Regions from separate parts of the Homo sapiens genome. Here all the other regions are linked to region 1. Evidence: fine-mapped QTL for protein levels in blood plasma. A gene starts in region 1. Each other region holds a variant in brackets. All regions are shown on one strand. Distances are from middle to middle.

What was found. A credible set is the group of variants that fine-mapping cannot tell apart. PIP is the posterior inclusion probability: the model's chance that the variant is causal. Protein levels are from antibody-based Olink assays in UK Biobank. Linkage for the fine-mapping came from a reference panel and not from the study's own genotypes, which makes the PIPs less certain.
Region 2: its variant is the best candidate, but not a certain one, in a credible set for the plasma level of the CD55 protein (UK Biobank, PIP 0.63).
Region 3: its variant is the best candidate, but not a certain one, in a credible set for the plasma level of the CD55 protein (UK Biobank, PIP 0.52).

Annotation. Positions count from the first base shown.
Region 1 is chr1:207,315,931-207,326,445 of GRCh38, reverse strand. CD55 (CD55 molecule (Cromer blood group)) reads right to left here and starts at 4,768. Exons shown (of 10, transcript NM_000574.5): 1 at 4,581-4,768; 2 at 3,879-4,064; 3 at 1,696-1,887; 4 at 725-824. The coding sequence starts at 4,680. It overlaps LOC107985251 (a long non-coding RNA gene), which reads left to right and starts at 4,317. Exons shown (of 3, transcript XR_007066838.1): 1 at 4,317-4,760. RefSeq lists a silencer at 4,493-4,572 and enhancers at 5,133-5,342, 9,033-9,862.
Region 2 is chr1:207,288,763-207,299,277 of GRCh38, reverse strand. All of the region lies in intron 2 of LINC02942 (long intergenic non-protein coding RNA 2942), which reads right to left. The region is part of intron 1 of LOC107985251 (a long non-coding RNA gene); the gene reads left to right. Among named protein-coding and RNA genes, the nearest start is that of CD55, 28 kb to the left of the region's middle. The variant G/A (reference allele first, on the strand shown) is at 6,024.
Region 3 is chr1:207,256,881-207,267,395 of GRCh38, reverse strand. The region is part of intron 2 of LINC02942 (long intergenic non-protein coding RNA 2942); the gene reads right to left. The region is part of intron 1 of LOC107985251 (a long non-coding RNA gene); the gene reads left to right. Among named protein-coding and RNA genes, the nearest start is that of LINC02942, 22 kb to the right of the region's middle. The variant A/G (reference allele first, on the strand shown) is at 4,958.

The DNA.
Region 1 (10,515 bases):
TTCTAAATATGGGCTTCACAGAATAATAGAATGTACTTATATTTAAAGGGTTCAAAGTACTTCCCAGATTTTGTGTTCATGACCTAACCAATATCTGTGTTTCGTATAGGAGACAAGTGATACTGATATTTTTACTTTATAAAGAATAGGGACACACACAGAGTAAAATAGAATTATTTAATTTACAGATATGAAATGAGAAAATAAATGTAAAGTTTTCAACAGTGTCTGAGACATTGATGGTACTCAATGAATGAGTTCCTTCTCCCTATACAGAGAACTTATCAAAGAACTTAGAATACTTTCACACTAGGAATGTCTTTAACTCATGCTGTTTTGTAACAGCTTGTTTGCATATAGAAAAACTCATGCAAATTCATTATTTAGGTCAACTAAAGATTGGTTTAGTATTTAACATTTGAAGATTTCTGCAAGTATCATCATCTCAAATTTTTTTATTAATCACATTTAAAATTTTATATTGAATCACATATTTACTGAAATCAGAATTTAGAGAATTCTGGTGGTTTAAGAAATCTTCCTTTCTTGCCCCCATTTTACTAAATTTAACTGTGATGAGCTCATGATGAAGGGTCTTTGAGGAGAGGGATTGTTTTAATTGCTACTAGCTGTGAATACCAGTCATGAAACTAACAATCTCACCTTAAGTCCTAATTTGTTTTCTCATTTCCTAAATACAGGGTTTTAGTATGCCCAAACTTACCCTGTGTTACATGAGAAGGAGATGGTTGCACCAAATAATATGCCACCTGGTACATCAATCTGACCATTTCGTATTTCTCCCGGATTAGGGCATGATTTCTCTAGAATAGAATACAAATTGATTTTTTAAAATTAAATTATCAGGCATACACACAAAGAAGGTAACTATGTGAGGTGGTAGATATGTTAATTAGCTTGACTGTGTTAATCATTTCACAATGTGCACATATATCAAAACATCATGTTGTACACCTAAGATAATATTTGTCGATTATACCTCAATAAAGCTCAGGTAAAAATTTTGAAAAAATTATCAAGCACATATATGTAAATTCATCATCTGAACCATTGATATTTCTTATCCTTAGACTTTTTTTTTTTTTTTTTTGAGATGGAGTTTTGCTCTGTTGCCCAGGCTGGAGCGCGGTGACATAATCTCAGCTCACTGCAACCTCTGCCTCCCAGGTTCAAGGGATTCTCCTGCCTCAGCCTTCCAAGAAGCTGGGATTACAGGCATGCGCCACCACACCCAGCTAGTTTTTGTATTTTTAGTAGAGTCAGGGTTTCATCATGTTGGCCAGGCTACTCTCAATCTCCTGACCTCAAGTGGTCCACCTGCCTCTGTCTCCCAAAGTGCTGGGATTACAGGTATGAGCCACCATGCCTGACCCTTAGACTTCTTTAATTCTAATTTCTCTTTATAATAAGTTTTGAAAAAGCAACGAATTTAGAATATATACTTGTTTTATTTTAGGTAACCTCAAACTAATTAAATGTGAAATTTTTGAATGAATAAGTATTCCTACCACATAAATATTTAGTCTAATTCAAAATAAATTGACACTCATGGTCCTATCAAGAAACATCCTATATAATAATATATACACATAGAGTTCTAGCATGAATGAAGGAAGGGATACTATTTCCCCCAAACACCAGATGGTTGAAAATACTTTAAAAAATTTTACTCACTTTTACAAAATTCGACTGCTGTGGACCATTTTAAATTCTGAAGGCAAGTTAGTTTTGGTGATAGAGAAGGTTCTCTTCTGTAACCTGGACGGCACTCATATTCCACAACAGTACCGACTGGAAAATAATTCTGAGTGATATAAGGCTGTTTGAGGGATGCAGAATTTAGCCTTGTTGGCACCTCGCAGCTACCTAAAAGTATTAACAAAAGCAGCAACAAAAAATGTAGTATCAATTTTTGTTTTATAATCTATATTTAATTATCTGGACCCTAATAACCCCCTTTCTTTACTGCTTTGCGCATATTTAGTACTTAACTATATTAATATCACCATGGCACTTGCAATGTAGCAAATGTATTCACATGTATACTTTGTTTCCTAGTTACTAGAGGCTTAGGAAGTAGAGTTGGTACACACATATCACTATCCCCACTTAAAAAAAAAAAAAAATTTAAGTTGCCTGGCCCAGTTCTGGCATTCAATAAATGTTGGTTTCCTTACCCTGCCCTAAAGAACTACACAGCACCATACAGTACAGGAATAGGGTATTTCCAGACCCCTGGACTAATGTCCTGCACAACAATAATAGCAGCTAATATTTATTTACGTACAAACTCATTTAATTCCCATGAGCCCTGGGGGCAAGGATGAGTCAATTGTATACATAAAGTATTTACACCTGTAAACAGATTGCCCACAAATTGTATACATAAAGTATTTACATCTGTAAACAGATTGCCCACAAATGTGAATCTAGAGAGGCATGGTCAAGTGGAAGGGTCATCATTGGATTTGTAGTCAGAAGACCCAAGTTTACACCTTGGTTTTGGCGTAAAAGCTGCTGCTCTTGAGGAAGTTATTAAACTACTGGGGTCTGTCTCCTCCGCCATAAAAAGAGTGTAAGAGCCCCAACTTACCTCATAAGGTTGTTTGGAGGATTGGATAAAGTAATAACATGGGGAAGAGTTAAAACATGATACATGTGCAAAGACTATGTACTTCATCCTACTGCCTCTATTGTGGATAAAAATAAAAAGTTAAAGCCTATTTCACGCATGGCTTCTAAAGGTATTTGTGCCAATTTCTGTATTTACAGTAGCTTCTATTGATTTAAGTTGTTCAAAGTCAGGTTATCGGGTCTCTTTATCTTTATCTCTACTCATATATCTCAAAGCTAATACAGGGCTATGTAAGTAACAGATTTTTTTCCTCCAAGATAATGCCAATATATATTTTATGAAATCAAAGGGCACATAAGGTGTGGATGACTGTATGTATATTCACCTAAAACAAGAAATCTTCATTTCTTTTAATTCTACTAGGTATCAGTATCAAACACGGTTACTGTGTTAGCCCCCAAACAACTCTTCACTGGGCCTCTTATTCATTTTTAACAATCAACCTATCTACCTGTCTATATCCCAGTTTATACATCTCTCTCTCCCTATATATATCTCTCTCCCTATATATATATATCTCCCTATATATATATATCTCTCCCTATATATATCTCCTTATATATATCCCAATTATATATCTCCTTATATATATATATCCCAATTATATATATCTCTCTCCCTATATATATATCCCAATTTATATATATACATATATTTTTTCAAAGTAGCAAGAAGAGAAGATTTGGAATATTCTCCACACAAACACCAAGTGTTTGAGGTACTGGCTATCCAATTACCCTGATTGATCATGACACACTGTATGCATGTGCCAGAATATCACATGTACCCTATAAATATGTACAAGTATAACAGATTTTGAAGTAAATATTGAGAGCTTTTAAAAATGCCACCACAGAGTTGTATTTGGTAAGTCCTACTTTATAAAATACTTAAGAAAACATATCATTTACGCTATGTGTCTCAAGGCAATTGCCAAATATATTTTATATGTTTACTCCCTAAACAATACCTATTGTTTATTTTCTCTACTAGTTCGTTCAAGAGGTACAGTGTTAGGAAGAAAAACTCTTAATGAAGCAGCAGGACCTACTCAGGGTGGTAAATGTCTTCAATTAGCTGGAGTGTGACGTGCCAACAGGGTATACCCTGGGGTTTAGTAACGCTAGAGAACTATCAATTACTAGTCACTCCAAAGGTATATAAAAATAAATTTAAGATACATTCCATTCCCAGAACTTTTCTAAAAAGATGAAGAACTTACGATTGCAGAACTCTTCAATATCTGACCATTGACTGCCCTTAAGGCAGATCACTGAGTCCTTCTCGCCAGGAATTTTCACAAAGCTTTCTTCACATTTGTACGTTATTACAGTATCCTCGGGAAAACTTGTACGGCCTTCCAAAGCTGGCTGGGCATTAGGTACATCTGGGGGAAGGCCACAGTCACCTAGGGAGACAAAAGCAGAACTGAAGGAAATGACTATCAAGTGTCCTCACAGTTGCTGTTTTCAAGACACAAGCCCCCTTGAAATGCCACACCTGAAAGAGATGACATGCAAGTTTGCAGCATCGTGTGCTCCACACGGCTGGACTCTGTCGAGAGTGGGGAACGGTCAGCGGTCTGGCCTCCCATCCTTTTAGACCAGCTTTTTGGGGGTTAAGGATACAGTCTCTTTGAGCCCTCCCTTTCGATTTTGCCAGGCTTGGCTGCTCCGCAAACCCAGCCGGGGCCTCTTTAACCCTCCACGCCGACCCCTAAAGCCAAGTCAGCTGGGGGCCGACACAGCAGGAGCCCCAAATGCTGGTGAGCGGCGAGAGCCTTAAAGGCACAGGACGGCGGGAACCACGACCGCGGGCCAAGCTCCCCACCTGCCAAGTCGCCGGCCCCTGTGCGTGTCTCAGAGACCGACTTGGACCTCCCACCCAGCCCAGGGGCTTCCCCGGCCGCCGGGCCCCTACTCACCCCACACGGCCGGCAGGCACAACAGCACCAGCAGCAGCAGCCGGGGCAGCTCCCCGAGGAGGGGCAGCGCCGCGGGCACGCTCGGCCGCGCGACGGTCATGGCGCGCCGGGTTAGAACAAGGACGCGCCGCCGGGACTCCGCCGAGTCGCAGCTACGCCCAGCGGCCGGAGCGAGTTGCAGTAAGCAGAAGCCTCGTGGCTCCGCAATACCAGTTAAATGAGTGCTTTGGGCGGGGTCTGGGCTGGGGCTCTGCGTCACCAAGGGTGGGACAAACAAGACGGGTGGAGTAGGGGTTTGTTGTGGTCAGAGGTGCGGTCAGAGGGCTCCGGCGTCATACGCCCCGGGGGCCCTAGACTCGGGGAGAGTGGGGAGGGGAAGGAGGAGGAGCTCGCTGGCAACACCCTCTGGGACTCACTCTCTCCACTGCTGGGTGGGGCCTGCGATGACCTGCCTTCTAGAAACCTAAATATCTCCTCGCTACGTAAACACAAACGGGGTGTAAACGGGAGAGGGGGAGGGGTGCTCAAGTATCGCAGGCCTTGCTGCCCGCACGTGAGTTCGTCTAAGCGGAGCATCCCCGCGCTTGAGTGCTGCCAAGGGGACCTGCAGGTGCGGTGGAGTTCGGGGGCTGAGACTCAGGCGCTGAGACGCGGTGCTCTACCCGCGTCTTGGGCCCTCTACTGGGAGGTCTGTCAAAGGCCAGCACGAGGGTGGGGAAATAACTAAGGAGGAAGGGCGTCATCTCCTAGAACACTCTCTAATGTGAAAACAGAGACCTGGGGAAACAGGTTGAATAACACAGTAGGGAGTGAACATTGTTCATGCCTTGTTCGGGTGGGAGTCATTTTCTTCACCCGGGTTCTCCTTATTTACGAAAGACACCACTTTGGGATTACTCCAGACTGACTGTAGAGAGAAATTCACCAGTGTGCGTGTGTGTATGTGTGTGTGTGTGTGTGTGTGTGTGTGTGCGCGCGCGCGCGCGCGCCTCGGGGCGGTGTGGGGTGGGATAACAATAAAAACAAACAGACCCCAAAACGCTGAATGGTGGTGGGGTGGATTTTAAGAGGAAGGCTTGTTACAAACCCTTTAGAATAAATAGCCTGAGGTTTGCAAGACTGGCCACACATTAGAATCACGTGGGGAGCTTATATATATATTTATATTTATATATTCATATATATTTATACATATATAAATATATATTCTTTAAGTTCTGGAATACATGTGCAGAACATGCAGGTTTGTTACATAGGTATACACGTGCCATGGTGGTTTGCTGCACCCATCAACCCAACATCTACATTAGGTATTTCTCCTAATGCTATCCCTCCCCTAACCCCCACCCTCCAACAGGCCCCCGTGTGTGATGTTCCCCTCCCTGTGTCTGTGTATTCTCATTGTTCAACTCCCACTTATGAGTAAGAACATGCAGTGTTTGGTTTTCTGGTCTTATGTTAGTTTGCTGAGGTTGATGGTTTCCAGCTTCATCCATGTCCCTGCATAGGACATGAACTCATCCTTTTTTATGGCTGTGTAGTATTCTATGGTGTATATGTGCCACATTTTCTTTATCCAGTCTATCATTGATGGGTATATGGGTTGGTTCCAATCCAGAGGCCCAAACTGCACCTTAGACAAATTAAATCAGCATCTTTGGGGATGGGACTGGGTATCAGGATTACTTAAAGTGCCACACTGTGCAGCCAGGTTTGAGAACCACAGACCTATATGGTACTGGTCAGAGTAAAGATCTATCCAGCTTAGGACCACCCCTGTCGAAAACAGAAAGGATATAGATGGCAAGGTGGGTTGCCCTTCTTCATAGAGAATAGCCTCAAGAACATGCTTCCCTGTAATAATTTATCTGGGTCTGGCTAGCAGAGTCCTAGCCTAGATTCCTTTTCCCTTAAATGCCTTACCTCGTTAAGTGAAATTCCCTACTTGGAATTATACTTTGGTCTATGGACCAGCTGTGGGGGTATTTGTTATATCCTATCATTATATTCTTTCCTGAAGGTTTTCTGATAGCTCTTTCCTGGTTGGTATGAGCTTTTTGAGGAGGAAAACAGCAATTTTTCAATCATAGCATTTTCTTTGACCCATACCTACTGTATAGAACCAAACCTTGTGTTGCCCATTGCTGGAGCCAATCCTACAGTGATTCCAAGCAAGGGACTACTGTAGGATTTCACTGAAACCTAACAATATTCGAACATTGTGGAGTTTAGAAGTTATGGTGGGGGGCTTTTAAAACCATCTAGTGTCATCCTCATATTTGATGTTAAAATATCTAACCTTTACTCCCATATTGGATATAAAAACACAAGGTATGTTAGGTCCTGGCAGTGTTTAGAAGTGGCATGAGGTCTTCATTTATTCCCCCAATAACCTCCAGTAACCTTAACCACCACTCCCTTCTGTCCTGCCATTAGAGATAGGTAATCTTCATTCCTGCTTGGGCTCACAGAATTGGTGTGAAAGGCAAGGTAGCATTATGAAAAAGACAGGTTCAAGCAAGACCAGTTATGCAGCTGTTAGAAGACTTAACATTGAAGTCTGTTAAAGCTCTCTACATGTTTATTATGTGAATGTCATAGCTTTATATGGAGAGAAAACAATGAGCTCTGCAAAGTGTCAAAAATATTATCTCTATCACACAGCTCAGTGACACTAAATGTCCTAAGCATTCACCTTCCAGCATACTTAGTTATTGGCAATAACTTTTTTTAAAAGGAAATTTTGGCCGGGCGTGGTGGCTCACGCCTGTAATCTCAGCACTTTGGGAGGCCAAGGCAGGAGGATCACCTGAGGTCAGGAGTTCCAGACTAGCCTGGCCAACATGGTGAAACCCCGTCTCTACTAAAAATACAAAAATTGGCTGGGCGTTGTGGCAGGTGCCTGTAATCCCAGCTACTTGGGAGGCTGAGGCGGGAGAATCACTTGAACCTGGGAGGCGGAGGTTGCAGTGAGCCAAGATCGCGCCATTGCACTCCAGCCTGGGGGACGAGAGCAAAACTCCGTCTCAAAAAAAAAAAAAGAAAAGAAATTTTACGAACAATTACTGGATAGAGTCTTAAGTAATAGTTACAATCAGCCAAATTTCAACATTCTGAGGGGAAGGAAACAAAGAAATCCACTATGTATTTACTCAATTTAGAAAAGAGATCTATGATAAAATCTAAGCATTCCTCAGAAAAAAGCAAATATGTGAATTTATAACTTACTAAAGATTATTTTAAATAAATGGCCTCATTTGTTGTGTTCCAGTTGCTTTATACACATTATACCATTTCACCAACACAACTTCATGAAGTGAAGATAACTATCCATATTTTGCAGACAAGGAAACAGGCTGAGAGGCTGTTTACCAAAGCCCATGCACTAACTAGCGACCAGGTCAGAATCTAAACCTAGTTTGATTCCAAAACCTGTACTTCTCCTGTCCTGCCGTACTACATTCTTTTTATTGGAATGAGCAAAAATTTCTTGTATGCAGAGGATGATGAATTAGGTACTTGGGGAGGTGATTTGGGAACCCAGGGGCTTATGATATGAGAAGTAGTTCCAAGGCTTCATACTTATCTACCAGAAACTATCAGTGTGTCCTCAGCTGAGTCACTGCACCTCTCAAGGGCTTATTTCTGCATTGATTAAATAGCATTTGGCACTAAAATAGTCTCTATAGACCTTCCAATCCAAAACAAGCTTATGTAATTAAGTCAAAATACAAAGAAAATAGGTTTATGATTTTGACAGAGCAAGGGACCACGGTTCTTACTCTTATCCCAGGAACCATACAATGACTAAATCAAAGACTGTTTAATAAACTTCCCTAGTATACAGAAACCCACTAAGTGTCAATACTTGTGTTTGAGAATCTACAATCTAGTAGGGAGGTTTTCCATGATAAATGCTATACAAATATCACAACCAAAGTGGTATGGGGCTTCAGAAAGGAAAGAAGGGAGTGTGGTAATTGGAGCGGGGAAGGCTAAAGGCCCAGTGATTCAACTAAATATGACAAGTGTCAATGCAATAGGGCAAAAATAGGAAAAGAGATGAGATACGAACAAAGGTTTGGGGTCAGTCCTGTTGATTCCAGGAATAGTAAGGAGTTTAGTTTAGGGAGAGTATGGAGAACTGAATTGAGGCAATGGCAATGGAACAAGAGGGTAAGAGAGGCTGGAAAGAGATTTGAGAGAGCCTTAAAGGCAAGGCCTGTGCCTTTTACACCATTCAGAAGCATTAAAGGACGGTTGACACTTGTAAGGAGGAAGCACCTGGGTAATTTGGAATTTGCATCTAAGATGCTGGAATGGGAATGGCTGTGTAAGCAAAGATCCAATTTAGCTAATTACAACAGTCCAGGTGTTTAGAGAACAAAAATGTCTTTTAGTTTTAAAATTAATAAATCTATATTAAGGAGTTCCAGTCCTGTTGCTCTGTAAAACTCCTGACACAATTATTATAGACTTTTGAATTTCCATTCCTGCTCTGACCAAACAAGTTTCAAAGTAATAAGCCACAGAATTTGGCAACTGATTAGATAAGGAACAGTGGGGAAAAAGATGTTGAAGAGGACTCGGAAGTTTGGAGTTTGTGAGATTAGCAGCCCTATTTAAAAGAACTATCCATATTCAGCTTTACACTTGTTGAATTTCAAATGCCTTGGCAGAGTGTCTACGTGGAAATGTCCAGCATGCGATTGAAACGGAGGCAAGATTGAGGTGGAGTGGGTAGAGATGTGACTGCAGGCAAGGTTTGAACCAAGGGAGCATAGCATGTGGAAATAGAGAAGCCCAAGGTGTGAGACTTGAGGAGCCCCACGTTAGAAAGTACAAATGACAGAGAAAGGGAAAGGAGAAGGTAGTGGAAAGGAAAGAGGATTGTGCAATTTCTTGAAAGCCAAGGAATACAAAACTGTGAGCAAATATTATCACCCTCATTGCAAGTGAACCAGCTGGTGTTTAGGGAAGTTAAGAAACTAGCCCCAAACCACATGGCTTGCTGGCAGTAGAACTAGTGCTTAGGATCTTAACACCTCTGTTAGACTGGCCAGGCAACATTCCTCCAGAAAATCTCCCTTGCCATTGCATCATACCTGGTACCTTCCTCTATGCTACCAAAGTATGTAATGTGCCTATCTATGCCTCACATCTGAGGAACCAGTCTATTTCATATTTACATTCTAACTCAGCCTAAATTTATTGCCAACTTATCTTAAAATAGCCAATGGGCGGGGGGTGGGGGTTGGGGGGAGCTTTATATTGAGGCATTTTTGTCATGCAGCTGCAAATACAGGTAATTCTGCTTCACAGAATAAGGGTATTTTTTAATAAATGAAAACAAATGAGTGGACTCTCCCATTTCTTATACATGAGTTCTTCAGGAATTCACTAATCAAGGTATCAGTGTATTGCAGCAGACATAGTAGTTTTTTTTTCACTAGGTGCAGGTTCAGCAGGACCTGGGAAAAAGTGGTCTAATTCCATGTGACATGTTCACCTATGAAATGGCATCCTGCCCTGCAGCTGACTTCCCTGTGTGTGTGAGAACAGGCTCAGCAGCCAGGGGGAAATGCAATGCTTGACTTATGTGAGCAAATATTTATTTGCCAAGATCTAACTTTCTGAGACAACAGTGAATTTTTGCTACCTCCACTTTGGAGGTAGGGGCAGGAACAAGAAAATGTGTGTGTGCACACATGTGAGACTGTGTTCATGTGTGAACTTCAAACACAAATTTAGGTTTTGCAATAGTAACATTATTTATAGGAGCAATTGGGAAGGTTAGGAATCTTGTAGCCTTTAGCTGCATGACTCCTGAGCCATAATTTTTAATCTTGTGGCTAGTTTGTTCATTTTAGTATGTGTGTGCAAGAATGTGAGAATATGTTTGCATGTGAGAGTGTATGCATGTATGAGTGTGTAA
Region 2 (10,515 bases), 27 kb after region 1:
TTGTCTCTTCAAACAAAATAAGGCCCCAGTGTCTTCAGAGAGCTGAGGCTACTTTGGACTTCAGATCAAATTGGAGTCTAAAGAAGTCAACCACAAAGCACACCAGAGGCATATATGCACTTATGTGCCCACAAATAGAAATATGTGGCTTCCATTGTTAGTATTCTACATGCATTATTTGCTCTCCTTCTAAGGTGTCTATTTTGTCTTCTGAAAGAAGAGTGGAACTCTGAGAGTAAATATTTATCTTGCAAAGCATGATTGGCTTTTTGTAATAATGGAGTAAACAACTCAAAAGAAATGAAGTAAGTCTAAGAGGTGGAAAGCTGTGGTTTTTCTGGCATGAGGAAAGGCTTAAGTATGGAAGAGTTTCAACTGATCAAGCAGCAGTAAGTATGCAGGAACTGGGTACAGTTTGAAGAACGAAAGTACTAATGTGTGAAGATGGAAATCATTATTCAGGCATGAGTATGTTTCAGCAAACATTGCCAAAGCTGTTCTATTGACATTTTAAGCTTGTATTAAAATGCTGCCAATAGAAAAGGAAGGAAGGCATTTCTGCCCAGCTGCGATTTTCATTTTTCTTTGAAACGAGGTTCTCTTATGTCCCCAACACTTCCCAGTCTAGCACAAAGTCCTGAGCTGAGAATCAAGAAATGCGAGTTCTGGTACCAGATCTCACATTAACTAGTAGGCTTACTTTAGGAAAGCCAAAGAATAATAGAATTACAGCCTTAAAAGAAACTTTAAAATTTTCTTAATCCTATGATTTCATTTTATAGCAGCTGTAATGGAGCTGAAACCCATCTGTGCTTTGCTTTTTCCAGTTTGTTGAATGCGTTGATCACTTCCCCTGCCTCTATCACAGAATTGTAGAGAGGTCCAAATGAAACAGGAAGTTTGACTGCATGTTCTCACTTATAAGTGGGAGCTGAACAATGAGAATACATGGACACAGGGAGGGGAATAACACACACTGGTGCTTGGGGGCAGGAGCGGCAATGGGGAGAGAGCATCAGGAAAAAGAGCTGATGCATGCTGGGCTTAATACCTAGGGGATGGGTTGATAGGTGCAGCAAACCACCATGGCACACGTTTACCTATGTAACAAACCAGCACATCCTGCACATGTATCCCAGAACTTAACATAAAAAGAAAGAGGAGGTTTGAGAGTGTCTCACTCTCATAACCTCTTTCTTCACTAAATTGCTTTGCTATTCAATGTTAGTCTTACTGTTTCAGGTTTTTTGTTTTGTTTTTTAATTGTCTAGGCTTGTTTGCTACACTGCATTTGCATACCTTTTGGTCTCACCTTGATTTTGAAGGCAAGAACCTATATTAAGTTGAAAATAAAGAGCCCAAAACATAACATCTGTAGAGCATTTGGTAACAACTGAACTTGACTATGTTGTTACTATACACCAAGTACTAGGCTACTGTGTATAACAATCCTTAGAAGTTGATAGCATTGATCCACCTAAGGAAGCTGAGGGCCAGAGAGGTTGAGGAGCTGCCCAAGAACACACAATTGGAAAGTAGTGGAGTAGGGACCAGACTCAAATTTCTCTGGCACCACAGCCTTTACTTTTCCATGCAAACATGCTTGATTAAGTTAAAATGATTTTGAAATGTTAGGCATAACTATAATAACCATTGCATTTCCCCGAGGGACCTAGGAGATGAGTGCAGGAAAACTCAGGAGAAAGCAAAGAAAGAGTGAGCCTTTTGATAATATTAAAACCAACTGTGAGAGAACTGGAAAATTATTATATATCTCGTAGTCCCTGGGCACTGCACAGGAAATTTCATTCAACCTTATATTCTACTCCTTTCTTTAGCCTAGTTACTGGCCTAAACTATGTTCTCTAGCTTTTTTCTTCATATCCAAATAAGGCATGAATTTGTAAATCACTAAATCCCTTAAATTTTATCACCATCCACGTATCTTCCATTTTATATTCTTCAGATCCTCTTATCTCTTCTGTCCCTCTCTGGCGAGCAGTACCAATGAGCTCAAACAAGAGACTGGCTCTCCAGGCTTGATTCCATAATGAAGGGAAAGCTACAAGCCATGCCCTCAGGGAGCACTTGAATCCTGCTCTCTGTAGTTTCTACACTTTCACTAGGCACTGGCCACCAAGGATACTTGGCATTAAAAACAGCTGTGGCTTTAAATGGCAAATCCTCCAGGAAAAGACTGTGTTTATCCCTTTCTCAGATTTTTCTACAATATTTAGTTCCTTTTTAGTTGTTACTCTTTCAATTGCCCCTTTTTAGAAAAGGTAGAATCCATCTGAACAAAAACTCTAAAGAATATATTCTGAGTAGGTGAACTATGAACCCCCTATGCTTTTGATTCATTTAATACTTATCACTTGTCTACTATGTGCAAAGCTATGCGTAGTGAACTTGGCACTCACACCGATTCTGACTCCCAAATAGACTGTCAGAGAGCTACAACATCACCTACATCTGGACTTTCCCAAACTTCCCTTTCTCCACTTGCTACTTTCTTTTTCTTTTCACCTATGTCCTACACAAATACTGACCACTTTTTAAATCTGGTGGACAGAAAAGCAATCGAAGTTTTGTCATAGAGAGGTATGAAGATATATGACTTATGCTGGAGTATGTTTCACATAATGATATGAATATAGCCATATTTATAGGCTATAAATAAATCCTATTGCATTGACTATAGTTTTCCTAAGAGAGCTAATATATGCTTTTACAAAATCAATTTAAAAATTAATCGTACAAACATTAAGATACATTTTTGTGTGAATATTTTTAATAATTTTGTTTGGAACTCACCTCTGACCAATTCTCATTCATCTAGCCACAAAAATCTTGGCTATTCAGCCTCTTGATGAAAAATCAGGATGTTGGATCGGCATGTGGCAAGCCAGCTACCTCTCATGCCCTCTACCAAAAAGAAAAACAGCCGGGCGCCGTGGCTCACGCCTGTAATCCCAGCACTTTGGGAAGCCAAGGCAGGCAGATCACGAGGTCAGGAGATCGAGACCATTCTGGCTAACACGGTGAAACCCTGTCTCTACTAAAAATACAAAAAAGTAGCCGGGCGTGGTGGCTGGCGCCTGTAGTCCCAGCTACTCGGGAGGCTGAGGCAGGAGAGAGGCGCGAACCCGGGAGGCGGAGCTTGCAGTGAGCCGAGATCGCGTCGCTGCCCTCCAGCCTGGGCGACAGAGCGAGACTCCATCTCAAAAAAAAAAAAAAAGAAAAGAAAAAACATGCTTTAATCTAGGTGTGCTTAGCTGTCTAAAAGTTTGATTTTTGTCCTAAGTCTCTGCTAGTTAGAATTACCTCTAAATAGAGGAATCAATTAGTGTCAAAATCACGTATTACATACTAATGTGGGTTTCGTATTATTGACAGTAAGTAAATTTGAAAAATATAAAGAGAAAAGCTGAGGGAGAAAATCAATCCTAATTGTACCATCAAAAGTGACCACTCAGTATCCTGCTGTATTTCCTCCCAACTTTTTTCTCTCGTTTTTTTTTTTTTACTTAATATTGTGAACATTCTTAAACAAATAAAACCTCTTCTAAAATAGTTGTATAATAGTCTATTTCTAGCTGGTCAGTGATTTATTAATCATTCTTGTTGGATGTTTAAGTTGTTTCCAGTTTTTCACTACTATAAACAAGGCAGAGATGAACATCCTGTATATATATTTCCTAGTATTTAAATTATTTCATTGGTGGATACATCATACACAAAAATTAACTCAAAATGAATTGAAGACTTAAATACAAGACTCGAAACTTTAAAAACATTGGGGAAAAAGAAAAAGAAAACATTGGGGAAAAAGCTTCATGAAATTTGTCTTAGCAATGATTACTTGGACTTGATACCAAAGGAACAGGCAATAAAAGCAAAGATAAACGAGTAGGACTACACCAAATGAAAAAGTTTGTGCACAACAAAAGAAACAACAAAATGAAAATGCAGCCTATGGATGGATTGGAAGAAAATATTTGCAAACTATATATCTGATAGATGGTTAATATCCACAATGCATAAGGAACTCCTATAACTTAATAGCAAAAACAGAACCCAATTTAAAAATGGACAAAGGAACTGAATAGACATTTTTCCAAAGAAAACACACAAATAGCTAACAGGTACATGAAAAGGTGCTCTACATTACTGATCATCAGGGAACCAAAAATCAAAACCACAATGAGATATCACTTTATTCCTATTAGGATGGCTATTTTTAAAACAAAACCAAAAGATAGTAAGTGTTGGCAAGGATGTGGAGAAAAGGAATCCCTTGTACACTGTTGGTGGGAATGTAAATTGGAATGGCCACTGTGGAAAACAGTATGGAGGTTTCTTTAAAAATTCAAAGTAGAACTACCGATGATCCAACAAGCTCACATCTGAATATATATCCAAAGGAATTAAAATCAAGATATTGAAAGGATATCTGCACTGCCACATTCATTTCAGCATTATTCACAAGAGCCAAGACATGAAAGCAACCTAAATGTCCATTGACTGATGAATGGATAAATAAAATGTGGCATATACAAACAATGGAATATTATTCTGCCTTTAAAAAGAAGGAAATGTTGTCATTTTCATCAACATAGATGAACCTGGAGAACATTATGCTAATTGAAATAAGCCAGACACAAAAGGACAAATACTGCATGGTACCACTCATATGAGAAATCTAAAATAGTCAAACTCATAGAGGCATAGGGTAGAAGGATAATTGCCAAGGGCTGGGGGTCATGGGGAAGTATATTAGTCAAGGGTACAAAGTTTCAGGTACTCTGGTTGGTGGAAATGTAAGTACAGGATAAATATACAAGATAAACTCTAGATATTTGTGGTACAGCATAGTGCCTATAGTTAACAATACTGTATTGCATACTTAAAAACTTGCTAATAGGGTAGATCTTATGTTGAGTGATCTTATCACACACGTACAAGTAATAATGATAAAGAGGGTAGGAGGAAACTTTTGGAGATGATGAATATGTTTATGAAATTGATTATGGTGATGACTCCACAGGTATATCCTTCTCTCCAAACTCATCAAGTTGTATATGTTAAATATGTACAACTTTTTGTATGTCAATTCATAACCTCAATATAATAGTCTAAAAATAATTGGAATGGAGTCTCAAATACAAAATTATTACAGCCAAGCCTTTTGATACAAATTTCTATATTGCTTTCCAATATAATTATATCAGCTTGCAATCCTAAGAGAAAAAAAAAATCAGTCTTACCACACCCTCAAATTTATATTCAGTTACTCTATCTGCATAAGAATTTACATTGTTGCCTAAGAATTTATATTTTATCTCATTTCAGGTTCCAGAAACTTAATTCTTAACACAATGTGAGGTACTAATACAAAATGTTTCCAAATAAACAAGCAAACATTTCCTGAGCATCTACTGTGTGTAAAGAACTGTGCCTGGCGTTGTAGAAAATATAGTACAGGTATATGAACTGTATTTGTCCTTATAGTACTTACTCTTCAGTAGGAGAAGTAAAATTATACCTGTCTACCACAGTGTCCACTTTTTGCTCTTTTGTATTAGTTACACAGCTAATACAAAACGGAAAGTAATAAGAGCCATAGAGGAGTTACAAATAGTTTAATGAGAGGGCAGAACAAAGGAAACATTTGATAAGGAGATCCGATATCAGTTGCTTTGGGCCTTATGCTTTTTGTATTAAGAGGAATACAAAATGCTGAAGATAGAGCTTTGGGGCCTTAATATCCCTTTATTGAAGGCTCTGGCAGAAGTAGGACTTTCTTTAGAAATTTTGAATTTTTTTTTTTTTTGAGACAGAGTCTCACTCTGTCACCCATGCTTGTGCACAGTGGCATGATCTCAGCTTACTGCAACCTCTGCTTCCTGGGTTTTCAAGTGATCCTCCTGCCTAAGCCTCCTGAGTAGCTGGGAATACAAGTGTGTACCACTATGCCTGCCTTATTTTTGTATTTTTAGTAGAGATGGAGTTTTGCCATGTTG[G/A]CCAGGCTGTGGATTTCTTTAATGCATTGTACACCATGGAATGAAGTCCTGTGATTATGTTCATTACTGTTCCCACTAGTATAAATACTTACTATGGTGTTTCAAGTAAAATGGATTAACATATCAATGTTCTGCTTGAATCAAATGGTGTTGATTTGATATATATTTTATGTTCTTTCCTTTCTCTATATTTAATAGAGATGAAATTGATCCTTGAGGTGGAGTCAAACAAAGGTAAAGGCTGAGACCTTGGCCTACTAGGATCCCAGCTCTGTGTACATCTAAATGGGACAAAAAGTAAATGAAAGCTTTTCTGGTTTTATCTTAGTGACATTCACTGGTGTATTAGTCCATTTTCATGCTGCTGATAAAGACATACCTGAGACTGGGCAATTTACAAAAGAGGTTTAATGGACTTACAGTTCCACGTGGCTGGGGAGGCCTCACAATCATGACAGAAGGTGAAAGGCATGTCTCACATGGTGGCAGACAAGAGAAGAGAACTTATGCAGGGAAACTCCCCATTTTAAAACCATCAGTTCTCATGAGACTTATCATTATCCCAAGAACAGCACAGGAAAGACCTGCCCCCATGATTCAATTACCCCCCACTGGGTCCCTCCCACCACACGTGGGAATTCAAGATGAGATTTGGGTGGGGTCATAGCCAAACCACATCATTCCACCCCAGCCCCTCCCAAATCTCATGTCCTCACATTTCAAAACCAATCATGTCTTCCCGACAGTCCCCCAGTGTCTTAACTCATTTCAGCATTAACTCAAAAGTCCACAGTTCAGTCTCATCTGAGATAAGGCAAGTACCTTCCACCTATAAGCCTGTAAAATCAAAAGCAAGTTAGTTACTTCCTAGATATAATGGGGGTACAAGCATTGGTTAAATACAGCCATTCCAAATGGGAGAAACTGGCCAAAACAAAGGGGCTACAGGCCCCACACAAGTCTGAAATCCAGTGGGGCATTCAAATCTCAAAGCTCCAAAATGATCTCCTTTGACTCCATGTCCCTCATCCAGGTCATGCTGATGTAAGAGGTGGGTTCCCATGGTCTTGGACAGCTCTGCCTCTGTGGCTTTGCAGGGTACAACCTCCCTCCTGGCTGCTTTCATGGGCTGGTATTGAATGTCTGCAGCTTTTCCAGGCTCTCAATACAAGCTGTCGGTGGATCTACCATTCTGGGGTCTAGCAGACTGTGGCCCTCTTCTCACAGCTCCATAGGTGGTGCTCCAGTAGGAACTCTGTGTGGGGGCTCTGACCCCACATTTCCCTTCGACACTGCCCTAGCAGAGGTTCTCCATGAGAGCCCCACCCCTGCAGCAAACTTCTGCCTGGACATCCAGGCACTTCCATACATCCTCTGAAAATCAGGCAGAGGTTCCTTTGGGAACCCCCAATTCTTGACTTCTATGCACTGGCAGGCTCAACACCACATGGAAGCTGCCAAGGCTTGAGGCTTGCACACTCTGAAGCCATGGCCTGAGCTCTGTGTTGGCCCCTTTCAGCCATGGCTGGAGTGACTCGGACACAGGGCATCAAGTCCCTAGGGGGCCTACAGCACAGGGACCCTGGGCCCAGCCCACGAAACCACTTTTTCCTCCTAGACCACCAGGCCTGTAATGGAATGGGCTGCTGTGAAGACCTCTGACATGCCTTAGAGACATTTTCCCCATTGTCTTGGGGATTAACATTCAGCTCCTCATTACTTATGCAAATTTCTGCAGCCTGCTTAGATTTCTTCTTAGAAATGGGATTTTCTTTTCTATCACATTGTCAGGCTGCAAGTTTTCCAAACTTTTATGCTCTGTTTCCCTTTTAAAACTGAATGCCTTTAGCAGTACCCAACTCGCCTCTTGAATGTTTTGCTGCTTTGAAATTTCTGCTGCCAGATACCCTAAATCATCTCTCTCAAGTTCAAAGTTCCACAAATCTCTCGTGCAGGGGCAAAATGCTGCCAGTCTCTTTGCTAAAACATAACAAGAGTCACCTTTGCTCCAGTTCCCAACAAGTTCCTCATTTCTGTTTGGGACCACCTTAGCCTGGACTTTATTGTCCATATCACTATCAGCATTTGGGGCAGGCAAAGTCATTCAACGAGTCTCTAGGAAGTTCCAAACTTTCCCACATTTTCCTGTCTTCTTCTAAGCCCTCCAAACTATTCCAACCTCCGCCTGTTACCCAGTTCCAAAGTTGCTTCCACATTTTTGAGTATCTACAGCAGCACCCCACTCTACCAGTACCAATTTACTGTATTAGTCTGTTTTCACACCGCTGGTAAAGACATACCTGAGACCTGGCAATTTACAAGAGAAAGAGGTTTAATGGACTTACAGTTCCATGTGGCTGGGGAGGCCTCACAATCATGGCAGAAGGTGAAAGGGACATCTCACATAGCAGCAGACAAGAGAAGAAAGCTTGTGCAAGGAAACTCCCCTTTTTAAAACCATCAGATCTCAGGAGACTTATTCACTATCCTGAGAACAGCATGGGAAAGACCTACCCCCATGATTCAATTACCTCCTACTGGGTCCCTCACATAACACAGGGGAATTCAAGATGAGATTTGGGTGGGGACACAGCCAAGCCATATCAACTGGTGCCTCTTTTTACTTCCAGTGATCTAGAGATGTTTACTATGTTAGTTGCTAACCACATGTAGCTATTTAAATTTATTTTTAAATTAAGAAAAATTAAGCAAAATTTAAAATATAGTTTCTCAGTTGCTCTGGCCATGTTTCCATTTCTCAATGACTCATGTGGCTAGTGACTACTATGTAGGACAGAGCACATATATGACATTCCATCATTGCAGCGTTCTAATGGACAGTGCTGATCCAGGTGTCAGGGAGTTATGTAAGCTCAAGAAAATTGTGAGGTAGTTACATAGGCTCAAGAAAATTGATTGTGCAGTTGGCCAGGATTTACAAATGTTGTAATTATATGTTAAGACCCAGTTTTCTAGGGATGAGAGAAGGTGAAGTGGCTCTCCTGCTTTCTAGATGACTCTTTGAACATCAACTATTTACAGAACATCTTCTATAAAAAATGATCTAGAATAAAGGCAAAGAAAAGGGAAACCTTGAACATTAATGTGTAAATCTGTAAAGGTGTTTTAGTTATAGATAGCATAATCATATGTCCCAATTTACCTGGGTGGTCCCAGTTTGCACCAGTTTTCTTTGCATAATTATTAAGAGTCCTCTTTTTCATTCTTAAAGTGTTCTAGTATGGATAATAAATTATATGGTCATGGTACTTATAGTCTCATTTCCTCCTTCCTCATTGAAGCTATGTAGATAAGCAAAACAAAAGCCTTCTAAATGCTGATTTCCATCCAATAACCAGCTTTGCCTAAGTCACATTCAGGGGTATGTGCTCACAGACTGTGAGGTTGTTCCCCACATGTAGAGAGCCAACTTACTGTAGCAGAGTTCCAGCCAACATACTTGGACTTCTGTTTTTCTCTTTCTTAAGGATGAACTATCAGAGGCAACACTGTTTTACTACAGCATAGAAATATATGAATGACTTAGGGAGAAATAAACTACATCAAATGCTTGCATGCATGTATTTCCTGCATTAACAGGTTTTCATGACTTAATGAGGAAAGAAGGTCTTGGCCTTGAAAGAAACACAGAAACAAATATTTAGTGGAAAAAGAACTGATCTGGAAGACAAAATATGTGAGCTTCTTGCTAGTTTAGCCATCATGTGAACTTGGATTTCCCCTTTTTATGTCTTGTCCCTCTGCACTTCAGTTTTCTAGAGGGAAAGGTGTGATATAAATTTAAAGCATTCTTCACTTGAGCTCATTAGAACTTCTGAACTTTCAGCTCCTTAAATGTACCAGTTCCTGGCCTTTGCATATGCATTGTTTTTCATTCTTCAGGACTTTGTGTGAGTACCACTTCTTCATGGATGTCTTCTCTGATCCCCTGAATTAGGTCAAGTGACCCCATGATCTTTATACCTTTTCATCAAAGCACTGAGCTTTGATTTCCTATTTACTTGTCCAAATTCCCCACAAGATTTTAAGTTCAGTGAGAATAAAAGCCATGTGTACTTAATTCACTTTATATGCCCAGTCCTACAGAATCCACATAGTTGATGCTCAGTTTTATTAATAAATGAATAAGCAAGCCTGTGTGCAAGACTTTGTATCCAAGAATATGGAGCCAAGTAAAACCTGATTCTTATCCCGACAAAGTAAGGCCGAACTAGAATGTCTGTAATACAAGACAAAGTAAGTTTCACAAAAGAGGTGCAAAAGATGCTGTAGGAATTTGAGGATAAATGACAGCACAACAGAGATAAGAAAAGGCTTCTGAAGAGATGGAGCATTTGAAATCAGCCTTAAAGAAAAGCTAAAACTTCAATAGGCAGAGATTGTTACTATGCAGTTAACATTCAATTTATTGTCAACCTACTATGTATAGGAATTGTTTTAGGCACTAAGCTAGTAGTAAGAAGACAAATAA
Region 3 (10,515 bases), 59 kb after region 1:
GAAGGAGTTATTTCAGGATCAACTTGATACATTTTCAGTCAACACAGATGTGGGGAGCATTGAAGAGGACTTTTAAAGGGAATCTTGAGTTTTTTAGATGCCACATATAAGTAAGATCATGCAGTATTTGTCTTTCTTTGCCTGCCTTATTTCAGTTAGCATAATGTCTACCAGGTTCTCCGTGTTGTTACAAATGGCAGGACCTCCCTCTTTTTGAAGCCCGAATAATATACCATTGTGTATATATATCACATTTACTCTATCCATTCATCCATTAATGGGCACATAAGTTGATTCCATTTCTTGTCCATCATAAATAATGCTGCAGTGAATGTGGAAGCACTGATATTTCTACAAAGTGCTGATTTCCTTTTGTTTGGGTATATATACCCAGCATAGGGATTGCCTGGTCATATAGTAGTTCTAGTTTTAATTTTTTGAGGAAAATCTATGTTTTTTTTCATAACGGCTATACCAATTTACATTCACACCAATAGTGTCTAAGGGTTCTCTGTTCTCCATATTCTCTCCAACACTTATTCCTTGACTTTTTTATAATGGCCATCCTAACAGGGGTGAAGTGATAATCTCATTGTGGTTTTGATTTGCAGTTCCCTGAAGACTAGTGATACTGAGTACCTTTTCATATAACTGTTGGCCATTCATATGCCCTCTTTGGAAAAATGTCTACTTCATTCCTTTGCCCATTTTTAAATTGAATTATTGAGGGTTTTTTGCTATTGAGGTGTGTGAGTCCCTTATATGTTTGGATATTAACCCTTTGTTAGATATATGGTTTGCAAATATTTTCTCCCTGTCTGCAGGCTGCCTTTTCATTTTGTTATTTCTTTCGCTATGCAGAATCTTTTTAGTTTGATGTAATCCTACTTGTTTATTTTTGCTTTTGTCACTGTGCTTTTGGGGTGATGGCCAAAAGTCATTTCCAAGACCAGTATCAAAGAGCTCTTCCCATGTTTTCTTCTAGGAGTTTTAAATAAAAACAGAGAGTAGAACAGTGGTTACCAGGGGTAAGGAGGGGGAGGAAATAGAGGTATGTCAAAGGGTACAAATTTGCAGTTAAATTGGATGATAAGTCTAGAGCTCTAAAATACAGTATGGAGACTATGGTTAATAATATTGTATTGTATACTGAAAATTTGCTAACAGAATAGATTTTAGGTGCTCTTAGCACACATAGGTAACTATGGAAAGTGATGAATATTTACATTTGTTTGACTGTAGTAGTTATTTCACTGTGTATATGTACATCCAAGCACCATGTTGTACCCATTAAATATATAAATAAATAAGAATCTTGATATAAATTTTGAGCCGTGGAAAGAGAATTTATACCAGTGGCAAGGTGGCCCTGGAAGTAGAATGAACTATGCCTGGAAAAGCTTGAAGTTTAAAGTTAGAGGTGACCATTTAGTAAAAGGTCTCTAGAGGTACACCAAATATACATTTTGTCCTAATAGCAGATGGCCAAGTATTAAAGCATAGTATTTTCTCAAAGTAGAAGATGAGGTTTACAATAGTATCATGAAATGCACTGCAGGAAGAAAATTAGAAGTTTCACCCAAAATAGTTTAATAATTATTACAAATATATTATGAAAGTTTAATATTCAAATTTTAAAAGTTTTATATTCTCATGCAGAAACAGGAATTTATTAGCACTGCCAGCTGCTTGATTGCTTTTATGATTGCTATACCACTTATTTACGATACTCTATAAACCCTCACTTTCAACTGAGGTGAGAGGAAGAGCTAGCTATTCAGCTGTGGCTTCATTTTTCCTTAATAATTTCTTTATTTCTTTATACATATTATAATAATGTATTATATTCAGATTGATGACAATTTATCATGATTGTGACATATGATTTGGAAGTTTTTCCTTTGTCAAATTTTGAGGTGATAATATTTGACATTCTCTTTTCCATTCTGCTTTGATGAATCCCTGTAGAACTAGTTTCTAAAAGCATAGTAGCCTAAATTAAGTAAAATACAGCTATTAGAGCTCATTATGTTTAATACAATGAATGCCAGCATATAAAAAATTCTGTAAAAGTTATCACTTTGATATCTAATCTATTACTCTGTGTCGTATAATTAATTTTTAACAAGCAACACTTTTATTGATACATACATTAGCCAGGGTTCTCCAGAGGGACAGAACTAATAGGATATATGTATATCTGGAAGGGAGTTTACATATGCCTAATGTTCCATTATTGGAATGCTAAGCATGTGGGAGTTATTTATATCCTTGAGCACAAGGTCATCACCAAGGTCTGATTTTTCACACAAAAAAATTGCAACCTCAGGCATAAATGGGTTAAGTAGAATTGACTCACATGATCACAAGGCAAAGTCTCACGATAGGCCGTCTGCAAGCTGGGGAAGAAAGACATCAGTAGTGGTTCAGTCTGAGTCCAAAAGCCTCAAAAGCAGGGAAGCCAATAGTGCAGCCTTCAGTCTGTGGCTGAAGGCCTGAGAGACCCTGGCAAACCACTGGTGTTAAGTCCAAGAGTCCAAAGGCCAAAGAACCTGGAATCTAATGTCCAAGGGCAGGAGGAATGGAAGGAAGCATCCAGCAGGGGAGAAAGATGAAAGCCAGAAGGCTCAGCAAGCCAGCTTATATCCCACCTTCTTCCGCCTGCTGTGTTCTAGCCATTCTGGCAGCCAGATTGGATGGTGCCCACCCACATTGAGAGTGTGTCTCCCTCTCCCAGTCCACTGACTCAAATGTCAGTCTCCTCTGGCAATACCTTTATAGACACACCCAGAAACAATACTTTACCAGCTATCTAGGCATCCTTCAATCCAATCCAGTTGACACCAAATATTAACCATCACAATACATAACAATTATACATATTTATGGGATACATGTGATATTTTGATACATGCATACAATGTGTAATCGTCAAATCAGGGTATTTAGGATATCCCTCACCTCAAACATTTATCATTTCTTTGGGTTGGGAACATTTTAAATCTTCTCTTTTAGCTATTTTGAAATATACAAGAAATTATTGTTAAGTGTTCTCACCCTACTGTGCTATGGAACACTAGAACTTATTCCTTCTGTCTAACTGTGTATTTGTGCCCATTAACCAACCTCCCTATATTCTTCTCCCGGACCTTTTCCAATGTGTAGTAACTATTGTTCTACTCTCTACTTCCATGAGTTCAACTTCTTAGTTTCCACCTATGAGTGAGAACATGCAACATTTATCTTTCTGTGCCTGGCTCATTTCACTTCACATAATGAACACCAGTTCCATTCAGTGTTGCTGTAAAGGACAGGATTTCATTCTTTTTATGGCTGAATAATATTCCATTGTGTACATATAGCACATATACCACATATTCTTTTTTTTTTTTTTTTTTTCAGGTGGAGTTTTGCTCTTGTTGCCCAGGCTGCAGTGCAATGGCAATGGCGCAATCTCGGCTCACCACAACCTCTGCCTCCTGGGTTTAAGCAATTCTCCTGCCTCAGCCTCCCGAGTTGCTGGGATTACAGGTATGTGCCACCACGCCAGGCTAATTTTTGTATTTTTTAGTAGAGACAGGGTTTCTCCATGTTGACTGGTCTCGAACTCCTGACCTCAGGTGATCCACCAGTCTTGTCATCCCAAAGTGCTGGGATTACAGGTGTGAGCCACTGTGCCCGGCCACCACATATTATTTATTCATTTATTCATCTGTTGGTGGTCTCTTAGGTTGATTCTATCTCTTTGCTATCATGAACAGTGCTGTAATAAATATGGAGGTGCCAGTATCCCTTTGATATACTGATTTCCTTTCTTTTGGATAAATACCCAGTAGTGGGATTGCTGTATCATATGGTAGCTCTATTTTTAATTTTTTAAGAAACCTTTATAATGTTTTTTATAATGGCTATACTAATTTACATTTCCAACAGCAGTGTATAAGAGTTCCCTTTTCAACCAGGCACGGTGGCTCACGCCTGTAATCACAGCACTTTTGGAGGCCCAGGCGGGTGGATAATGAGGTCAGGAGATCAAGACTGTCTTGGCCAACATGGTGAACCCCTATCTCTACTAAAATACAAAAAATTAGCTGGGTGTGGTGGTGCATCTTTGTAATCCCAGCTACTTGGGAGGCTGAGACAGGAGAATCGCTTGAACCCAGAAGGCGGAGGTTGCAGTGAGCTGAGATTGTGCCACTGCACTCCAGCCTGTCAACAGAGCAAGACTCCATCTAAAAAAAAAAAAAAAAAGAGTTCCCTTTTCTCTGCATCCTTGCCAACATCTGTTATTTTTTGACTTTTTAATAATAGTCATTTAAAGTGGGTGAGATAATATCTCATTGTGGTTTTGATTTGCATTTCTCTGATGCTTAGTGGTGTTGAGCATTTGTTCATATAACTGCTGGCCATTTGTATGTCTTTTTTTTTTTTTTTTTTTTTTGAGATGGAGTCTCACTTTGTCACCCAGGCTGGAGTGCAGTGGCGCAATCTTGGCTTACTGCAACCTCCACTTTCTGGGTTCAAGTGATTCTCCTGCCTCAGCCTCCCAAGTAGCTGGGATTACAGGTGCCCACCACCACGCCCAGCTAATTTTTGTATTTTTAGTAGAGACGGGTTTCACCATGTTGGCCAGGCTGGTCTCGAACTCCTAGCCTCAGGTGATCCGCCCACCTTGGCCTCCCAAAGTGCTGAGATTACAGGCGTGAGCCACCATGCCTGGTCCATTTGTATGTCTTCTTTTGATAAGTACTTATTCAGATCTTTTGCCTATTTCTTAATGGGATTATTTCAGGAGGTTTTGCTGTTCTTTGTATTTGTGTTCTTTGTATTGATGTTTTTGTGTTTTCTGGATACTAGTCCTCTGTTGGATGAATAATATTATCTCTCATTCTACAAGTTGTCTCTTCACTCCGTTGATTTTTTCTTTTGCTGTGTAGAAGCTTTTTAGTTAGATTAA[A/G]TCCCATTTGTCTATTTTTGTTTTTGCTGCCTGTACTTTGAGGTTCTTTGAGGTTACAAATTCTTTGCCTAGGCCAATATCCAGGAGACTTTTCCCTAGATTTTCTTTTAGTATTTTTATAGATTTTGGTCTTACATTTAAGTCTTTAATCCATTTTGAGTTGATTCTTTAATATGGTGAGAGATAGGTATTCAGTTTCATTCTTCTGCATGTGGCAATCCAGTTTACCCAGCACCATTTAGTAAAGAGGATGTCTTTTCCCCAGTGTAAATTCTTGTCAGCTTTGTCAAAGATGAGTTAGCTGCAAATATGTGGCTTTATTTCTGGGTTCTCTATTCTCTTCCACAGGTCTATTTTTATACCAACACCATGCTGTTTTTGTTACTATAGCCTTGTATTATATTTTGAAATCAGATAACATGATGCCTCAAGCTTTGTTCTTTTTGCTCAGGATTGCTTTGGCTACTAGGGCTCTTTTTTAGTTCCATGTGAATTTTAGATTGTTGTTGCTATTTCTGTGAAGAATATCACTGATATTTATTGCTCGGGTTTCACTGAATCTTTAGATTACTTTGTGCAGTATGGTGATTTTGACAATATTAATTCTTCCAATTCATGAGCTTGGGATGTTTTTCCAATTCTTTGTGTCATCAATTTCTTCCATCAATGTGTTTTGTAATTTTTCTTATAGATGTCTTTCACCTCCTTAGTTACATTTATTCCTAGGTATTTTATTTTTTTGTTGCAATTGTAAATGGTTTCTTGACTTCCTTTTCAGCTAGTTTGATATTGTTGTATAGAAATGCTACAGGTATTTGTATGTTGACATGTACAATTATTTAATTTTATTAGATGTTTGTTGGCAGAAAAATTATGTTTTTCTTAATGTTCTCTAAATAATGCACTATTGATATTTATATTAACTGTGAAACAATTTTCCTATTATTTAAATATTAAAAAGTTTTTTTGCACATACAATAAATAGCTTTAACAGTCATCATTAATCATAGTAGTGTACATATAGGACATATTTATAGTAATACAAATATCATATATTTATTCATCAACTGACAGAATCTTAATATAAAGCACATAAGGAGACTTCTCACTCTGTGCCACATCTAGAATATATACTTAGATTCTTTGAAAAGGTTCACTAGTAACTCTAAATCTGAAGGGCTTTTTCTTTTTTTTTAGACGGAGTCTCTCTCTTGTCGCTCAGGCTGGAGTGCAGTGACGTGATCTCAGCTCACTGCAACCTCCACCTCTTGGGTTCAAGCAATTCTCCTGCCTCAGCCTCCTGAGTAGCTGGGATTACGGGCACTCGCCACCATGCCCAACTAATTTTTGTACTTTTAGTAGAGACAGGGTTTTGCCATGTTGTCCAGGCTGGTCTTAAACTCCTGATCTCAGGTGATCTGCCCGTCTCGGCCTCCGAAAGTGCTGGGATTACAGGTGTGAGCCACCGTGCCTGGCCTAAATGACATTTTTAATGTCATTGTTATTCTGATTAGAAGTGATTAGATATGACAGTCAGGAATGTCAGAAATTACATTGCAAGGGAAGTAGGGGGAGACTGATGAACAGAAGTTGGTTAAGGGATACAAAAATACGATTGATAGAAGGAGTAATTTCTGGTATTTGATAGTTAGCTATAATTTATTGTATATTTCCAAATAGCTAGAAGAGAACTGTAATGTTTTCAACACAAAGATAAATGTTTAAGGTGATAGATATCCCAATTACAATGATTGAATAATTACACATTATATACATGTGTCAAAATATTACATGCACCCCCAAATGTGTACAACCATAGTATAGCAATAAAAAATTAAAAATTAGATCTGGAAAGAGGGGAGGAGCAAGATAGTTGAATAGACATCTCCACTGATTGTCCCTCCTACAGAAGCACCAAATTTAACACTATCTACACAATAAAAGCATCTTCGTGAGAACCAAAAACTAGGTGAACACTCACAGTACCTGGTTTTAACTTCCTACTGCTGACAGAGGCACCAAAGACAATAGGAAAGACAGTCTTGAATTGCTGACACCACTACCCCATACCCTGGCAGTGGCCACATGAGGCAGAGAGAGAATCTGTGTGCTTGGGAGAGGGAGAATGCAGCAACTGTGAGACTTTGCATTGACCTCAGTGCTCCCCTGTCACAGCGAAAAGCAAAATAAGGCTGAACTCAGCAGATGCCCACCTATAGAGGAAGCAGTTTGAGGAGCCCTCACCAGATGGGAATCACCCATCCCAGTAGTTGGAATTTGAGTTCCAGCAAGCTTTGCCACCACAGGCTAAAGTGCTTTGAGGCCTAAATAAACTTGAAATGTAATCTGGGCCACAAGGACTGCAACTCCAAGGCAAGTCCTAGTTCTGAGCTGGGCTCAGAGCCCGTGGAACTGGGGGGCATGTGACCTACTGGGACATCAGCCAGGGCAGCCAGGGCTTGTGCTACCCCTCCCCAAACCTCAGACAGCACAGCTCGTGGCTCCAAAAGAGACCTCTTGCTTTTGCTTGAGGAGAAGAAGGGCAAGAGTAATAAGGACTTTGTCTTGCATCTTGGATACAAGTTCAGCTACAGTAAGATAGGGTACCAGTCAGAATTGTGAAGCCCCCACTCGAGGCTCTAGCTCCTGGATGACATTTCTAGACATACCCTGGGCCAGAAGGGAAACTGCTGCCTTGAAGAGAAGGACCCAGTTCCAGCAGTACCTCATCACCTGCTGACTAAAGAGGCTTGGGCCCTGAATAATCAGTAGTGAGACCCAGGTAGTACACTCTGGGCCTTGGGTAAGATTCTGAGACATGCTGGCTTCAAGTGAGACCCAGCACATTCCCAGTTGTTGTGGCTATGGAATGACTCCTCCTGCTGGAGAAAAGCAGAAGGAAAAGTAAAGGGGACTTTGTCTTGTACCTTACATACCAGCTCAACCACAGGGGCAAACCATCAAGCAGGCTCTTGGGGGTCCCTATTTCCAGGCCTTGGCTCTTGGATGGCATTTCTGGACATTCCCTGGACCAGAGTGGAGCCCACTTCCCTGAAAAGTGAGTCCCAGGCCTGGCGGCATTCACCACAAGCTAACTGAAGAGTCCTTGTGCCTTTAGTGAACATTGGTGGTAGCCTGGCAGGACTCACTGTGGGCCTGTGGTGGTGGTAGCCGTGGAATGAAGCTCCTCTGCCTATGGAAAGGGGAGAGAAGAATGGGAAGGACTGGGTCTTGTGGTTTGAGTGTCAGCTCAGCTGCAGGACAATAGAATACCAAGTAGATTCCTAAGGTTTTCAACTCCAGTCCCTGACTCCTAGATGCCATCTCTATACCTACCAAGGGTGTCGAAAACTTGCTTCCCTGAAGAGAAGGACACAAGCCTGGCTGGAGTCATCACCTGCTGATTGTAGAGCCCTAGAGCCTTCACCAAACATAGGCAGTAGAAAGGTAGTCATTACAGTGAGCCTTGGGCGAGACCTAGTGCTGTGATGGCTTCAGGCCTGACCCAGCACAGTAGTGATGGTGGCCATGGAGGTGCTTGTGTCACCTTAATCCCAGCTCCAGACAGCTCAGCATGGAAAGAGAGAGGCCCTGTTTGTTTGGGAGAAAATAAGAAAAGAGAACAGGTAATCCAGAGAATCTTCCAGATCTTATCCAAGACCACCAAGGTGGTACCTCTATGAGTCTGCAATAACTACAGTATTAGTGGATTTGGGGTCCCCCTTAATGCAGACATGGCTTAGGTTACACCACCCAAGTCCTTTTGAATATCTCAAAAGCCTTCCCAAGGACAGGCACAAACAAGCCCAGAATGCAAAGACTTCAATAAATACCTAACTCTTCAATTTCCAGAAATTGGCAAACATCCACAAGCATCCAGACCATCCATGAAAACATGGTTTTACAAAATGAACTAAGTAAGTTACCAGGGACTGATTCTGGAGAAACAGAGATATGTGACCTTTCAGGAAAAGTTTTCAAAATACCTGTTTTGAGGAATCCCAAAGAAATTACAGAAAACACAAAGAAGGAATTCAGAATTCTGTCAGATAAATTTAACCAAGATATAGAAATAATTAAAAAGAATTAGGAAGAAATTCTGGAGTTGAAAAATGCAGTTGACAATGAAGAATGTATCAGAATCTTTTAACAGAAGAATAGATCAAGCAAAAGAAAGAATTAGTGAGCTTGCAGACAGCCTACTTGAAAATACACAGTCAGAGGAGAAAAAGAATAACAAAAAGCAAAGCACACCTACAAGATCTAGAAAATAGCTTCAAAAGGGCAAATCTGAGAGTTATTGGCCTTAAGAGGTAGAGAAAGAGATAAGAGTAGGACATTTATTCAAAGGGATAAGAATAGAGAAATTTTCAAGCCTAGAGAAACGTATTAATATCAAAGTACAAAAAAGTTATAGAACACCAAGCAGATTTAACTCAAAGAAGACTATCTCAAGGCATTTAATAATCAAACTCCCAAAGGTCAAGGATAAAGAAAGGAACCTAAAAGCTGCAAGAGGAAAGAAACAAATGATATACAGTGGAGCTCCAATATGTCTGGCAGCAGACTTTTCAGTGAAAACCTTACAGGCCAGAAGAGAGTGGCATGACATATTTAAAGTGCTGAAGGAAAACAACTTTTACCCTAGAATAGTATATCTGGCAAAAGTATCCTTCAAACATGAAGAGATGTAAAGACTTTCCCAGAGAAACAAAAGCTGAGGGATTTCATCAACACCAGGCCTGTCCTATAAGAAATGCTAAAGGGAACACTTCATCCAGAAAGAAAGGGACATTATGAATAGTAAGAAACCATCTGAAAGCACAAAACTCACTGGTAGTAGTAAGTACACAGAAAAACACAGTATGATAACACTGTAACTGTGGTATGTAAACAAGTCTTATCTTAAGTAGAAGACTAAAAGATGAACCAATCAAAAATAATAACTACAACTTTTCAATACGTAGTGCAATAAGATATAAATAGAGACAACACGAAGTTAAAAAGCAGGGCACAAAGTTAAAAAACAGAGTTTCTATTAGTTTTCTTTTTGCTTGTTTATTTATGCAAACAGTGTTAAGATGTTATCAACTTAAAATAATGGGATATAAGACAGTATTTGCAAGCCTCATGGCAACCTATAATAAAAAAAATACAATGTATACACCAAAAATAAAAAGCAGGAAATTACATCATACCACCAGAGAAAATCATCTTCACTAAAAGGAAGACAGAAAAGAAGGAAAAAAGAAAGAGAAGTCCACAAAACAACCAGAAAACAAATTTTTTAAAAGGCAGAAGTAAGTCCTTACTTATCAATAATAATATTGAATGTAAATGGACTAAACTCTCCAGTAAAAAGACAGAGTATCAGAATGGATGAAAAAAAGAGGATTCGATGATCTGTTGCACACAAGAAACCCATTTCACCTAAAAAGACACATATAGACTGAAAATAAGGGGATGGAAAAAGATATTCTGTGGTGATGGAAACCAAAAAAGAGCAAGAGTAGCTATACTCATATCAGACAAAATAGATTGCAAGACAAAAACATGGA